2 linked regions of the Homo sapiens genome follow. The protein of the gene in region 2 interacts with the protein of the main gene of each other region in a pairwise test. Each region holds a gene or a part of one and is shown on either strand. Other genes may lie near its edges.

Evidence for each region.
Region 1: the proteins of FHL5 (region 2) and HEY2 interact in binary tests that used the Homo sapiens proteins (3 or more experiments, as listed by UniProt).

The regions. Positions count from the first base shown.
Region 1 is NC_000006.12:125,745,737-125,752,637, reverse strand, and holds the start of HEY2 (hairy/enhancer-of-split related with YRPW motif protein 2), read right to left. Parts: upstream 3,007-6,901; 5' UTR 2,862-3,006; coding exon 2,779-2,861; intron 2,769-2,778; exon of another isoform or gene 1,112-2,768; intron 838-1,111; coding exon 759-837; intron 632-758; coding exon 548-631; intron 1-547. UniProt on the Homo sapiens protein: Downstream effector of Notch signaling which may be required for cardiovascular development. Transcriptional repressor which binds preferentially to the canonical E box sequence 5'-CACGTG-3'.
Region 2 is NC_000006.12:96,608,122-96,615,146, forward strand, and holds part of FHL5 (four and a half LIM domains protein 5), read left to right. Parts: intron 1-2,450; coding exon 2,451-2,637; intron 2,638-7,025. UniProt on the Homo sapiens protein: May be involved in the regulation of spermatogenesis. Stimulates CREM transcriptional activity in a phosphorylation-independent manner.

The sequences.
Region 1 (6,901 bases), about 29 Mb from region 2:
AACTTCTAAAAAGATGACCCAAATCAAATGGCATTCTACCAACCCAGGGATTAAAAATGAAAGCAAATGGCTTGGTAAATAAATTTTAGTGGTATTATCATTTAGGAAATAGAGCTAGAGATGTTACTTCTTGGGCTCTGATTGTTTTTTAATTAAAAATATTACATTTTAAAAAAATTTTGAGAAAAAAATGGTTTTTTTTTTTTTTTTGAAGGATACGGTATACAGCACAGTTTTAAATAAAACCACTACTGGTATTCATAGAAAGAACAGAGAAAGCATGAACACTGTTACCCTTAAGGGGAAAATAAGCTAAAGAATGGAAATGTTTTTCAACTTCATGATGGATTATGTTTTTAATAGTTTTGCCACAACAAAGCATTTTATTGAAATAGCTGCTCTGTGCCAGATCAGGGCACATACACTATTATTTTAATGAGCTTTAACAAGAACCCACATTCCCAGATGAGCGAATCAGATTGTGTTTGAGCTTTTTTTTGGGGGGTGGCGGGGTGGGTGGGGGGATTCTGGGGAGGGGATAGCTTACTTGTTTTTCAAAAGCAGTTGGCACAAGTCTTCTCAACTCAGATAAACTGTTATTTATCCGATCCCGACGCCTTTTCTCTATAATCTATCCAAAAGAAGCAAACAACAAAAGTTTATGAATTCACAAATGATAAAATTACTCAAATGAAAAAATGTAACTGTTACACAATAGTATAAGTTACATGAAATAAAAAGGGGGAAAAATCACATACCCCTCTCCTTTTCTTTCTTGCCATAATCTGAGATGTTGTTGTTGGAGAATTCAATCTAATCACAGAGCTAGTACTTTGCCTATGAAATAAGAAGAGTATGTCAGGTGCTGCATTAACATAACAATAGTTTCTTCTGGGTACTTGTGGCACCCATTAAATATTCAGAGTGATTGCACAGTTCAAGTCTGTGTTATTTTATTCTTAGTTCTTGTTTCACTCTTAACGGACTTTGCTTTCAGCCCGGCTGTCTCTTTTCAGGTAAAAATTACGCCTTAATTTGTAATCCAGATGCTAACCCATTGGCCAAAATGTCCCACAATTTTTACTTGAAAGTCTCCCAGTGAAATAATTACCGGCAGTTGGGCTGAGAAGTTAGATATTAGCATTTCCTAGTTCCACTCATATATTTTAAAGTCAACTAATCTCAAATAGCTTTCCTTCTCCCTCCTGTCAGGCACACTGAACAAAATAATGCCACTTTTTCAAATCAGGGTTATGTTAAGCACCACTATCAAACAGATGTGCAGTCGTCATACGTCAAACTCTTGTCTCTAGGTGCAAACTTTAAAATAAATAGAAGTTATCTTACTGTTTCAAAACTTCAGTTAGTCATATATTGCAACAGGAAAAAATTGACAAACTTGATGTTTTGCATACTAATCTTCCAAAAATATGCCCTAAATATGCCACTGATAGGAAAATTAAAACTCATTTTATTACTAGGTGAATGTTTTACTTTGAAAATGAAACTGTAGGTGTGTCTCAGACTTTAGGCTAAGCTTAAATCTCCAGAAGCTGCAATGCACCTTGGATTTACTAATGAAAATATATTTTTATATTGAAGGTTCAATCAAAGTATTATTTGGTCACATAATTTTTACAATCCTTTCTAGTTTGTATCTGTTTCTCTTCATAATTCATGGATACTATGCTTCTTTGTGTTCTCAAATTCCCCAGGTTCCTGTTATTTGTTCTCTTTCATTTTAGAAATGCTGCACACACCAGGTTGCTATTACCTCACCTTCTCACTTCTGGATCTTATTTCTGAATTACCTGTCCCCCTCATTTTCACCCCTTCTTTACGGGTTTCACCTTTCACGTGATAGCTTCTGTTTTTCAGACCTCATTTTTAAAGACGGCACAACAACACTTTAATGATCAGATACTTAAACCTTTGCTTTCGTGTAAATATCTTTGCTCTTGCAGATTTTGTGCTTTGCTTTGTATGTATTAGAATAACAATATGAAAGAAAACCAGTTTTCCAAAGGTAGGAAGAATTTCCCTCTTTGAGTGACAGCTGCAGATAAATAATTAAGGTGCTTCTGGGGATGCCAATTAGAAGCAATTATCATTTGACCCGCCTTGGCTCTAAAATGCCTCGGTAATCTCCCTCTGTCACAGGAAAGTGGAGGTCTGGCTTCTGTGATTACGACGCCGATCTCTTCCAGACTTGAGAACAAGCAGTCAAAGAAATGATGCCCTTTCCGATGCTTACATCTGTCACTCACTCTTGCGTTAGCCAAGTCACACACGGTCAACCTGCAAAGTTCAACCTACGTAGCCTTGACATCGCAGGTTGCTTTAATTCCTCCAAAAATCAAGTTGTGATTTTGGTATCTCTAAAAATCAAAAATCAAATTGTTTTTATTTTCTCCTGATCTATTTTGAAAGTGCCCCCAAATACGGTTTCAGTGGCTGGGACATCGCCTGTCGCCCAGACGCTGCCGTTCGCGCGTCCAACTGTGACAGCCAGGACCCTCCCTCGCCAACTCCTGCGCTCTGCCTTTCAGTGGCGTCTCCCATCCTGGCTACTCCACCCCTACGGTGAAAATCCACATCCCTTGCCCCATCCCAACTCACGCTCTGCGAGCGCCCACCACTCAAACTTTCTCAGGCCAAACTTTCCCTCTCTACCTAGATGCTGCGGAGACCAGCCTCGGGATTTCCAGGGAGCCACGCATTCACAAAGCTACCCCAAGCTCCCGAGCTGCGGGCCGCTCCCGCGGAGCCCGCGCTCACCCCGAGTAATTGTTCTCGCTCCCCACGTCGATGGTCTCGTCCATGTCGCTCTCGGAGGTCGTCTCCTCGCAGGGGCGCTTCATCCCGGCGAAGACCGCGCGGGGCACAGCCCGGCCGGAAGCTCGGACGCCGAGCGGGGCGCAGCACCCTGACGCCCGCCTCCTCCCTCCCCGGGCCTGGGCAGGCGCGGCTCCGGCGGCGGCGCGGTCTGCTCCTAGCGGCTCTTTCCCACGCCGCAACTCTGCTCGGCCGCAAGAGCCGGCGCCGGCCACGCCCCCCCCTCGAGCGGGTGGGGCCACCTCACCCGCCCCCGCGCACCGGCCCAGGCCTTCCGCCCGGCACCTCCCCCTCGCTGGTCGGCGTGGCTCGCGATTGGCTGGGCCAGGGGGCGGGGCCGCGCTCGCCAATGCCCGCCGCAAGGCTCCAGCCGAGGCGTGGGAACGCGGCCGCGGACCTGGTACCCCAGAGCAGCGAGCGGGTGGGGAGCAGCCGGGGCGAGAATGAGCGCAATCTTGCTAACCCCTGCGGAGGGAGCGCGCGGGCGCCAACGCGGGCGCGCGGGGGCGGGCCCTGGACCTGGACCTTGGGTTTCGGCCCTCCTCCGCGCCCCGCGGTCTCGCGGGCGAAGTTTCAGTCCTGAGTGTAAAGAATAACCCCAAGCGCGTGGCTAAGTGCGAGCAGGCGCGTGTGACGTCGGGAGGCGCCGCGGCTCCTCGGCCGCCCCACTCGGTGGTCCCCTGTCTGGATCCAAACTGCTGACTGGCTGACCCGAGTGGTCACATTTGCCCTCTGGGGCTTTTGAAAACCTTAAATCAAAATTGCTTTTGAATCTGACAACTCCTGAGGCTACTTTCGCGGCCTCGGGGCTGTTTCATATAAGGACGCGAGTTTTCCTGATCAGGTCTGTCGGCCACGTTACGATTTCCAATTTGCGATCCATCAGTTACTTCCATTGGGTCTTCAGCCCCCAGGGACTGTGGATCCTAGACCCCGCGGAGAAGCCCGTGGACTGGAGCTGTGTCAGCTCTGATGGTAGGAAAGACTAGATCAATGACGCGGGCATTTCAGGACATAATCGTATATTTTCAAGTTCGAGTTTTTCGGGCTTGGATTATCCAGATAATTGCCTCCAGTCTCCTCCAGTCCCCCTGGTGTATGCACTCGCAGCCGCAGAGTTAGAGTCCGGGAGGTGAAGATTGGCGCTTGGAAATTAGATTTGGTTTCTAAAGTATGAATTCGTGTCCAACAGTTCGTGCCTTGGACAACGTGGGTTGTATAAAACTCAAGCTGTGTGTTTAAAACAGGTTTTCTAGCTGCTGGTTCTCTCCAAGTTATGTAGGACTTTTGAACTGGCCACCCCGCTGTGCGTCTGCGAGGGCAGGGACTGAGCGAGACCCAGCCAGGGGCGCCGGGAGACTGGCGGCGGCTGGGTTGGGGTCCAGCCGGAAACCACACGTTGGCAGGGCCGCTTGGTCAGTAGTGGAGAGAGCCTCTGAGAAAGGGCCGTCTATCGATCCCCAGACCCCTCCGTCACGGAGGGATTCATAGCTTCCTGGGGATCGGCCCAGGGCGTCCCTTTGACACTCCGTTCTCTGTCCACACAAGCCCGGCGCGGGGCGGGGAGAAGAGGAAAGGACGCGACTGGGAAAGACGGGACCCTGGCGGGGTTTGGCCCGGGGGAGAGCGGGAAGGAGCCCGGTCGGCGCGGAGGACCTGCGGCCAGCGTGCTAAGCCCTTATTAGAACAGAAACCCCTTTCCCCCCACACTCTCATCTCTTTTGCGCGGTCCCCACCGCCATGCCTTCAATAACCTTGTGAATAGAAACCCGAATCGTTCCATCTTGGCTTCTGAAACTTAACCCCAGGCAAAGCACACACTCGGCGGGGCCAGGTGGGGCTGGATGGGGTCCGCGCCCGACGGCGGGGCCGCGGGGGTCGGTGAACCCCAGCTCCCCTGTCGGCCTCAGGGCGGATGGCTGGGTCGGCGCGGGGTTCGGGGCCTCCGATCGGCTGCACGAGGGCGGGCCAGGACCCAGACCCCGTCCCCGCTCCGGCCCCGCAATCCAGCGGGTGACGAGCCTGACGCGCGCCGGTCGCCTGCCACCTCCCGCCCCGAGCGCCCTGGGCCAGTACCTCCCGGCCGCAGGTGAACGCTCCGCGGCCCGCCAGGCTCAAGCTCGACCGTCACAACTTTCCGTGAGGGCTGCACGTTTTTCTGAATTCAAATGCCTGCAGGTGCAACTCATGTTTGCCACACGGGCAATTAGCGGGCGCGTCCAAACGCCTGAGGCAAAACCTGAGATCATCACTGAAAAAAAAAAATCTAACAGTTCTTTGCCACTATACTAGTGTATTTAATTATGATTGCGAAAAATTGCAGAGGGAAACGATTTGCTGGCAATTAAGTAGCAACTGGTTAAAGTTTTTTTTCAATTTGTCTTTGAAGACAACTGCTGTACTATGTATAAAGAAGAGTATAGCAGGGAAGTTCGAAAGCACACACGGAATTTTAAATCTGTTAAAAATATTTTTTAAGCAAAGAAGGTGGTATTTTAAAAGCATTTAAAACAGCGCCTGGTATATAGTAAGCGCCATAGAAGTCTGTTAAGAATGCATAGGGCAAGAGAGCTCAGGGTTTTGAACGCTATCAAAATAATATGCTTATTTATCTGCAAAACACAATAGCAATTAGGCAGCACGAGATTTCCCCATTAGGTCGTTTATTCTCCTCAGCTGTTTATTCCATTTGCCTGTCCCTTGGTTGAGCGCCTTGTCTGTCTATAACCGAAAGTGCGTTTCGGGTCAGAGAGACAGAAACAGACACAGGAAACCCTTTAAAGCGCCCCCGCCGACTTAAATACGGTAGTGGATTGGAGGTGGGGAGGTGTAGGGGAGGCGTTATGTGGAGAGAAAGAAAAGAGAAAGAATGAGGGAACGGCGGGATTTCAAGCCTCCCCGCCCTTCTGCGACAACCTTTTCAGCGAAAGGGAAGGCTTAGGAAGAAAAGATGTCCGCGCGTAGAGCAAACCGCAGTTCTTTCCTTTCTTTTTGAAGGATTTGTACCATGAGTTAATTACACCAAAAGATACGAGGGACTTTATTAGAAAGGAGATGCCGTTAGGAAAGAAAGGCCAGGACGGCCGATCTAAAGGGAATGGAGAAGGGAAGACTCAGACGCCCTCCCGAAATTGGTGGTCTAGCCTGTGTTTTGTGCTAAATGTTATTTAACTTAATGGCGTGGGAGTGAGATGTTGAATGCAGAGATCTGGAAATACCAGATTTAGTGGTCCTGTTCCTCCTCCCCGACTCTTTTCACACCCATTTAATAAAAAGTTACAGTTTTTACACCCGTATTGATAAATTTGGCGATGTTGGCCAAGTATTATCTCGCCCCGCAGATTTTGAATTTTGTTGCACAAACCGATGAAATGATTGCTTTGCTATAATTGTAAAACTTTTTTGGAACGAACCTGGATTTTTTTTATGCCTCTTCATCTACTTTTTGCTTCATTAGAGCCCTCTGGTTTTCCAAGATCGACTGTCACACTTTGTTATTTGTTGCTTCTCTAAATCCTTTGAGATGCTGCTCGCAGCTACGTAAAAAACGTTGGCCACTCAGGTATTTGATGGGCTTAGAAAGTCACCAAGATGTGACACCATTTAAAAGTTTTAGCTTGGTTTCTCAGTGAAATAAGGGCATCTCTGTTAATTAGAAAACTTTGTGTTAGTCTGAGATGCCTAAGAGCATAGTCCAAATTGAAAATTCCAATATTTTGCCACATCTGAAATATAATTATTTACACAGCCTTCTCTTTCAAAGGGAGGACAAACAGGTTGCCTTGAGAAGAGCTATTCTATTTGCAATTGCTGGGGCAGGTGACAAACACGTGTGTATCTGTGGGCAGCCTTGTTGGGCTGCCTTCCCTGACTACAAGGCTTTTGTGAGCTGGTAACGCCTTAAAATGTGTGAGAATGCTGCGCCCTAGGAGTGGAGGCCAAGGGCAAGATCCTTGTACATTTCAATACCTTTTCCAACATCAGGCTGGCAGCAGGCAGGCCAACCTAGGGTCACTGTGTGACACATATTTGCAAGCCAGTAAAGCAAAACAAAGCTGAAAGCAAG
Region 2 (7,025 bases):
AAACAGTAATGATATTTGTGAGAATTATCCTAAAATCATTTATCAGACACAATAATGAAGACTCTTTCAATGCTATAACAATTCAAGAGTGAAACTTCTTTAGTACATCCATGCTGAGCACTGTCTGGGCCAAGTGCTGATGTTTCCCAGGTTATTGGAGCCTGTAACTATATTTAGGATATGATTTGAAGTCATCAAAAATTTACAAAATATTTATATTGGGTAGTAGACAGATTATGACATGCCAGATTATTTTTTATTTAGTTTTTAAAACCACAAGTCCTTTTCTAAAAAGCTAGATTTGTTTTTGATCAAGATGATCCAATCTAAACAATTTTTTTCAACCCAAACCAAAGACCAAATATTTTCTTAAAAAAAGGAAAAACTACTTGACAACCAGGCTGTTAGAACTTTTAAGCTTTAAAATCCATAGATTTTATTTTGTTAAACTAAGATTTATTTTCTGCCAGAAAGCAAATGATTTTAAACTACAAGTGCTTCAAATTCAAACTCCTCAAGGTTCAAAAGGAGTTAAACGTCTTCTTCGATTTTTCATCTGTCACATAATGAGTGCAAAATCATTATTGCCCCCACTTTTTCACAGAACAAACTTGTTCTAAATCCTGAGATCAATCAGTGGTGAAAACCAAGCTTAGATATTAGACTTTATCTTACCTTCCTACCTCTTCAAAAGGAATATAATCACAAGCAAACTATTTTTGATGTTCCAGAATTTCTTCTCTCTAATTAAACAGTCTTTGGTGTATATATCAAGTTTTATTTTGCTGTGAATACATTTTTCAAGTTTCAGATCTTTTAAGCATTGCCTGCTAATCATCAGACCAAACAAATCAAAGGAATCATGAATTCTGCTGTGTCTGCTGTAAGGCATTGGAAGTCAGTAGGAGGTATTTTAAATTGCTTTACTTCCATCACAACATTATGCTTCCCATTTACTTATTCAGAATAGTATGCTTTTTTCCCTCTAGGAAAATATCTTTCATATCAAATATCTTTAATTTCTAAGATATTTGTTATAAGATTAAAAATACCTTTAGAATAATTTTTTCACAAGTCTATGTAACAGACAAATAACATTTTTGAGTTCGTAAACAACGAGGCGGCTTAAAATAGGCTCTAAGTTTTTACTACCTAGTTAATTTGATACAAAGGTTATAGGAACCACCTCAGATACCCCATTGCTTCAGTCATTATAAAACACTTACAAAAACACATTCCAGTATCTACAGCAATTCTAAGAGCTCATTAGCTGTGAATTCAAAAGGTGATGTGGCTTAAAAATAGTTACATGAGAAAAAATGCCCAAGATTTATCCATCTGATTCTAACTAAAGATTTCTCAGCCTTTTAAAAAGTAGAATTCATGGATTAAATTGGTTTAGAAAGAAAATATTATCTTATGCAGAACTAATTACATCTCAGGCAAAACACTGCACATCACACCTTAAGGCTCAATGTACAACCAGGGCTTATTCCATTGAGTTCTAATTCCCACAGCACCCCACTGCTAGATACAATATTGGAATTGCTTTCCAACTATTTTTTCCTTTGGCATTTATTCATTCATTCAACAAGGATTTTCAACTGCTTATCTGTGTAAGGTAACCTTGACTCAGTATGGCACTGATGGTGATGCACACAGGCTGTGGAATCAGACCATGCAGGTTTGAATCCTAGCTCACTATGGCCATGGCAAGTAACTTAATGACTGTAACCCTCACTAGTTGCTCATCTGAAAAGAGGGAAAGATAATAGTCTGTAGTATGTAGAGGTGTTGAGAATATTCAGAAGAGATCATCCTTAGCACGGTGGTAAGGACTGAAAAAACACTTAAGAAATGGTAGTTGTTATTAGCAAATAATGGTGCTTACCAATTCCATTCAGAATTACTGCTGTTGGATATTCTTGGACCTGGTGTAAAGCATTCAGGAAAAAGAAGAATTCTTTTAAGCATCCCTAAAGTTAGACAGGTAGTTATAAGAACATAGTATAGAAAATAGCTCTAACGGCAGATCTTTAAAAACCAAAATTAAGAAAATTCAGAGAAGTATGAGGAAGTGAAAAAAGAACCTGTGTGGTTTTTCTCCCCCATCTTCCTGAGTCCAATATGGCCCTGCCTCTGTTCTATTTCATTGTAGGAGAAAAATATACAATAATTTCCATTTCTTTCTACTTCTAATTAATTCCTATAGCCTTTGGCTTCTCATATTATTAATTTTTAATGACTTTTTGAGGAAAAGAACATCCTAACATAAGGTGAAAATAGAGTAGCCAAAAGCACCAGTTGTGGCATAGAAGACATGAAATGATCTTTTTTTTTTCTTTTTGCTTCCTTTTCTCCCCAGAGATACTAGGATCTCAAAAGAATCATGAAATGATCTGAATTGTAATGGCTCCCATGGTCATTGCCTTTTCTGTGGTCTTTGGCAGGTGATAACTTCAGGTGGGATAACATTTTGTGACCAGCTATGGCATAAAGAGTGTTTTCTGTGTAGTGGCTGTAGGAAAGATCTCTGTGAAGAACAGTTCATGTCCAGAGACGACTATCCATTCTGCGTGGACTGCTACAACCATCTTTATGCCAACAAGTGTGTAGCCTGTTCCAAACCCATTAGTGGTGAGTTCTTCAGTTCAATATGATCATGCCATGAGACAGTTATGACTTTATGAAACACTATCTAGTTAATTTAGGAAAAGCAATTAAAAAATGGGAAGCTTTCCTTTATATTTCCTTTTGAGATAAACACAAGTGGGTGCATATATATGAGTATAAATATTACATGGATTCCTCAAGGAAAGTACAAGAGTATAATTTGGGTGACTATACTCTGTGAAGGTAACTACATACTAAACCTAATGGTACTGACTCTAACATTCAAGGAAGGAGGAGAACAGGATGAGCTGAGAGGTTAGTGCAGGCCTTCACGAGGAGATCTGCTTGCAGCCTCATTAAGTTTTGAGTGGGAGGAGAAGAGTACTAATAAATCAAAATCCTGCTTAATTCTAAAATAGGACCAAGCATCCTTTAGTTAGGAAGGTTTTAATTAAATTCCACTATTGTATAGAACATCTGAAGCTGTAATAATTAAGGTAGCATAGGTCAGTAATTAATTAAACTTCATTTTAAGATGCTTCTAACAAATGTATTACTCTCTTTTCTCTATTCACTTGCAATTATGAAGTGTGTTTATGAGTAGATGAAAGAAAACAAGATAGCATTTTACTGAAAAAAAAATGTGACATGATTTGAAAATAACATAATGATAAATCAATCCATGTTAAAGAGGTTTTCAAGGTAAAAAGAAATACATCTTTTCCTCAGAGACACTTTTAAAATGCTAATCCTATAATAAAGGAACTGAAACTAGCATGACACTTGAGAAACTCAGCAGCTATTCTTTCTGGCAATTTATAATCACTTAATAATGTGTCAGAACTGTATATCTACTTTCTATTCCTAGTATTCTTAGAACATATTTCAATTTTTAGTTGTTCATATACCATAGAATTAAAGATCATTTTATCCCTTTCCTCCTTCTTCATCTTCAAATATGTGGCAAAATAAAAGTTGAGTCTTCATGCACTTTCCAACCAAAAGAAAAAGTTTCACAGCAAACCCCACCTTGGCAGGCTTTCACTGACTTGCAAAGGGAGGGAGGGTGTCACCAGAAAAAAACAGCATGGTCTTATTTGTCTATATGGAGCACCATCTGTGTCAGGATCTCACACTGGCTCACGGGCTACATCTGGCAAGCAGGCTGTTGATGTTTGGCCTGAACATGTTTGGAAATAACTAATGTAAAATCCATCTCTGCAGCTAAAAGTAGAGGAAGAGCCTGCCATTGGGTGAGCAGACTGCCTCCACATTCCCCAGCAGGGTCACCATCATATGGAACTCGTGGCTGTCCAATTGCATGGGGCATGCCCTCTCTGTCCCTTGCACCCTGTCTGCATCACTCAGCTAGATCACCTCCCTGGCCCTTGCAAGAACTTGCCTTAGCAATCCCACACCACTCGGCTCCAGGGTCCATGCTTTTAATTACCCTGCTCTCCTGCCTTCTACAAATTTGACAATTCCTATAGCCAAGAGATCTCCACTGATTTTAGTTAGAAAATGGGACTTTCAGATATCCAACAATACCTGGAGCTCCAGAATCTCCCAAGTAAAATCTGCAATCACAGTCCATTTATTTTATAACAACACTTATCTTGAATTGGGACAGAAAAAAAAAGGGGACTTCAATGAGAAAATAAGGAAATTAACAACTCAAAATAAGTTTCAAAATTCTCTGGAGATCCAGATGGCTAATACTGATCTGCAAAAAGCCTACACAAGCCCTGAACTTGAGTTTCAATTCTGGTATATCACAGATTCATGTGCCTAAGTGATTTTTTTCATAGATTGTTCCAGATCAATCACTGGGCCCAGCTTTTTAAAGTTGAGATGGAAAAACAACGTTGTTCTGCACAAAAACATGAGGATGATCAAAAGTAAATAATCTGACCCAAAAGTAATCTAAATTTTACCCAAAAGTAATCTAAATATTATATATTTAATTTAGACTCATCAGTCCACAGGAAATGTCTAATAACTATCTTAATCTTTTTTTTAACTTTGTGATTGAGACACCAGAGGCTGAAATGCCTGCAAAAACTTACAACTCACTTTACTATTTCTTCATCTAATTGTTAAATATCTATAGGCCCTGAAGTACTGCTTCTTTAAAATTGAGCTATTTGAACTGATGTACCATTGGGAATTCTGATATTGTCACACGTCTTCGGAAAATTGGCATTAATCTGATTATTATGTCACTTTAAAAGCTAGGTATTCTTGGTCAAAGGATACACAATTTCAGTTAAACAGGGGAAATAATTTCAAGATCTATTGTACAACATAGTGACTATAGTTAACAACTATGTATTATATACTTGAAAATTGCTAAGAGAATAGATTTTTAAATGTTCTCACCACACACACAAAAAAGCATATGATAAGGTAATAGATATGTTAATTGCCTTGATTTAGCCATTCCACAATGCATACATATACAAAAACATGTTATATAATATATGTACAATTTTTATTTGTCAATTAAGATTAATCAATTATTTTTTTAAAAAGCTCTGAGAAATCTACCCATAAATCACCAAGTGTAATTTTTAAAACCCATCACATTGAACTGCTTCATTTGAACAAACTCCAGATATAGCTACCATATTTTCTCCTCCTTTGAGATAGGATTAACCTCTTAAACTATCAGGGATAAATGAAGCTGCTTGATGCAGTGAAAGGTGCTCTGGACTGAGGAGCAAAAGACTTGGTCCTCCCTGCCCCCACTGCTGTGTCACCATGGGTGACTAACTCACCTCAGGGGTGGGGGGCCTTCATTTGCCTTATTTATAAAACAAGCAGTTGAGCAGGTTGGCTTTCTTCCATCTCTGTTTATTTCAAGGAAAAGGAATTTCAAATGTTGTGGCTTCTTCAGAGAGTGATGCTGATGTTCCTGATCATATTCTTTACCAAAGATAAACTCAAACTTAGTTTCATGAGGTTAAAAGCAGAGACTCTAAAGACAGATGGCCCTGGCCTGTGCTTAAATCTTAGATCTGCTGCTTACTAGCTGGGTGACCTGGGGCAAGCGGTTAAACTTCTCACTTCTCAGTTTTTGTCTGCAAAGTGGGGCTGATGCTAATATCTGACCCCATGAAGGTAAGGTGAGGGCTGTATACGGTAACACACATAAAGGACTTAGAATAGTAATTGGCACACAGTCAAGCACTCAACAAATGCCAGCTCTTATTCTACTGACTTGTCAGAAACCTATGAAACCAGATAACACAGGTGTCAAAGACCTGCTTCATGAATGGCTTTCTTACTGCAAACAACCCTCATGACCTAAGGGAGTAAACATATTCCTTTTGGAACAGTTTACATACATCTCACATGTTGGTTCAGCCCTTTCTTAAAGTTGCCAGATGCTTCTACTTTTTCTTATTTGTAAAATTCCGGAAGAATTGCTTTTATATTTGCCACTTGTACAAGGCTTACTAATAAAATTAAGAAAAACTCATGAGCATCAAAATGCTAGACATGTAATAATTAGTTTTATGAACAGCATAATTTATGTATATACAGAACATTACTCTTGCAGTCAGCTTATTAATGTTTTGAATAACATTAAGGGAATTAAGTAGTACATAATTAATTTACATTTATTAGGAAGTAATGTTGATAGCATCATAGATAAGCAAGCTATAAATTTAATCAAGGAAAGTAGAGAAATTTGATGCAATTTTCTGTATGAACTACTAAATTATATATGAAGACATCAAATAAGTTTGTTAGGATGGAAACAAAAGTTCATTATCCTATTTAAGAAGAATGTATCTGAAATAGAATGCTATTCACCCTTTCACTTCACCATTCCAAATGGAGTATTTGGAAATTACATATGAATTACATAACTCTTTTAGCCTCACTCCATGGATGATAAGCAAATAATAGCACTAAGATTACTGGGAGAAAACATGAAATAAATAAAGACCCAAGCCTAGGGCATCTCAACCTCTTCCCAAACCCTAACATTTTCTCCTTTAATGTAACTTCTCAAAATCAATTTCTTGAACTATACCCTGGAATCACATTAAGGAGACAGAGATCAGACCCTCACCGAAGATTCAAATTCGACTACTTTTTAAAGAAACAGTATGGTTCAAGTGAGGCCCAAGTTAAAGTGGAGGAGGCTGACAAAGCTCTTAGAAACCAATCACGTGATAACGTGGCTTCATTGGCCAGATTCAACAAAAGCTGAAGCTGGCTCTGAGCAAGGTAATAAGGCCATCACGTTAGGATGGCTGAATGATTAGACAAAATCCTCTATTTGGTTATGCTTTCTAGAAATAGTGTCCCAAACCGTATAACCCCAGGACATATTCTAAGTACAACTAAGCACAGAAAAATGAGGGGAAAGAAGAAAACTAAAACTCATTACAACATTGGAC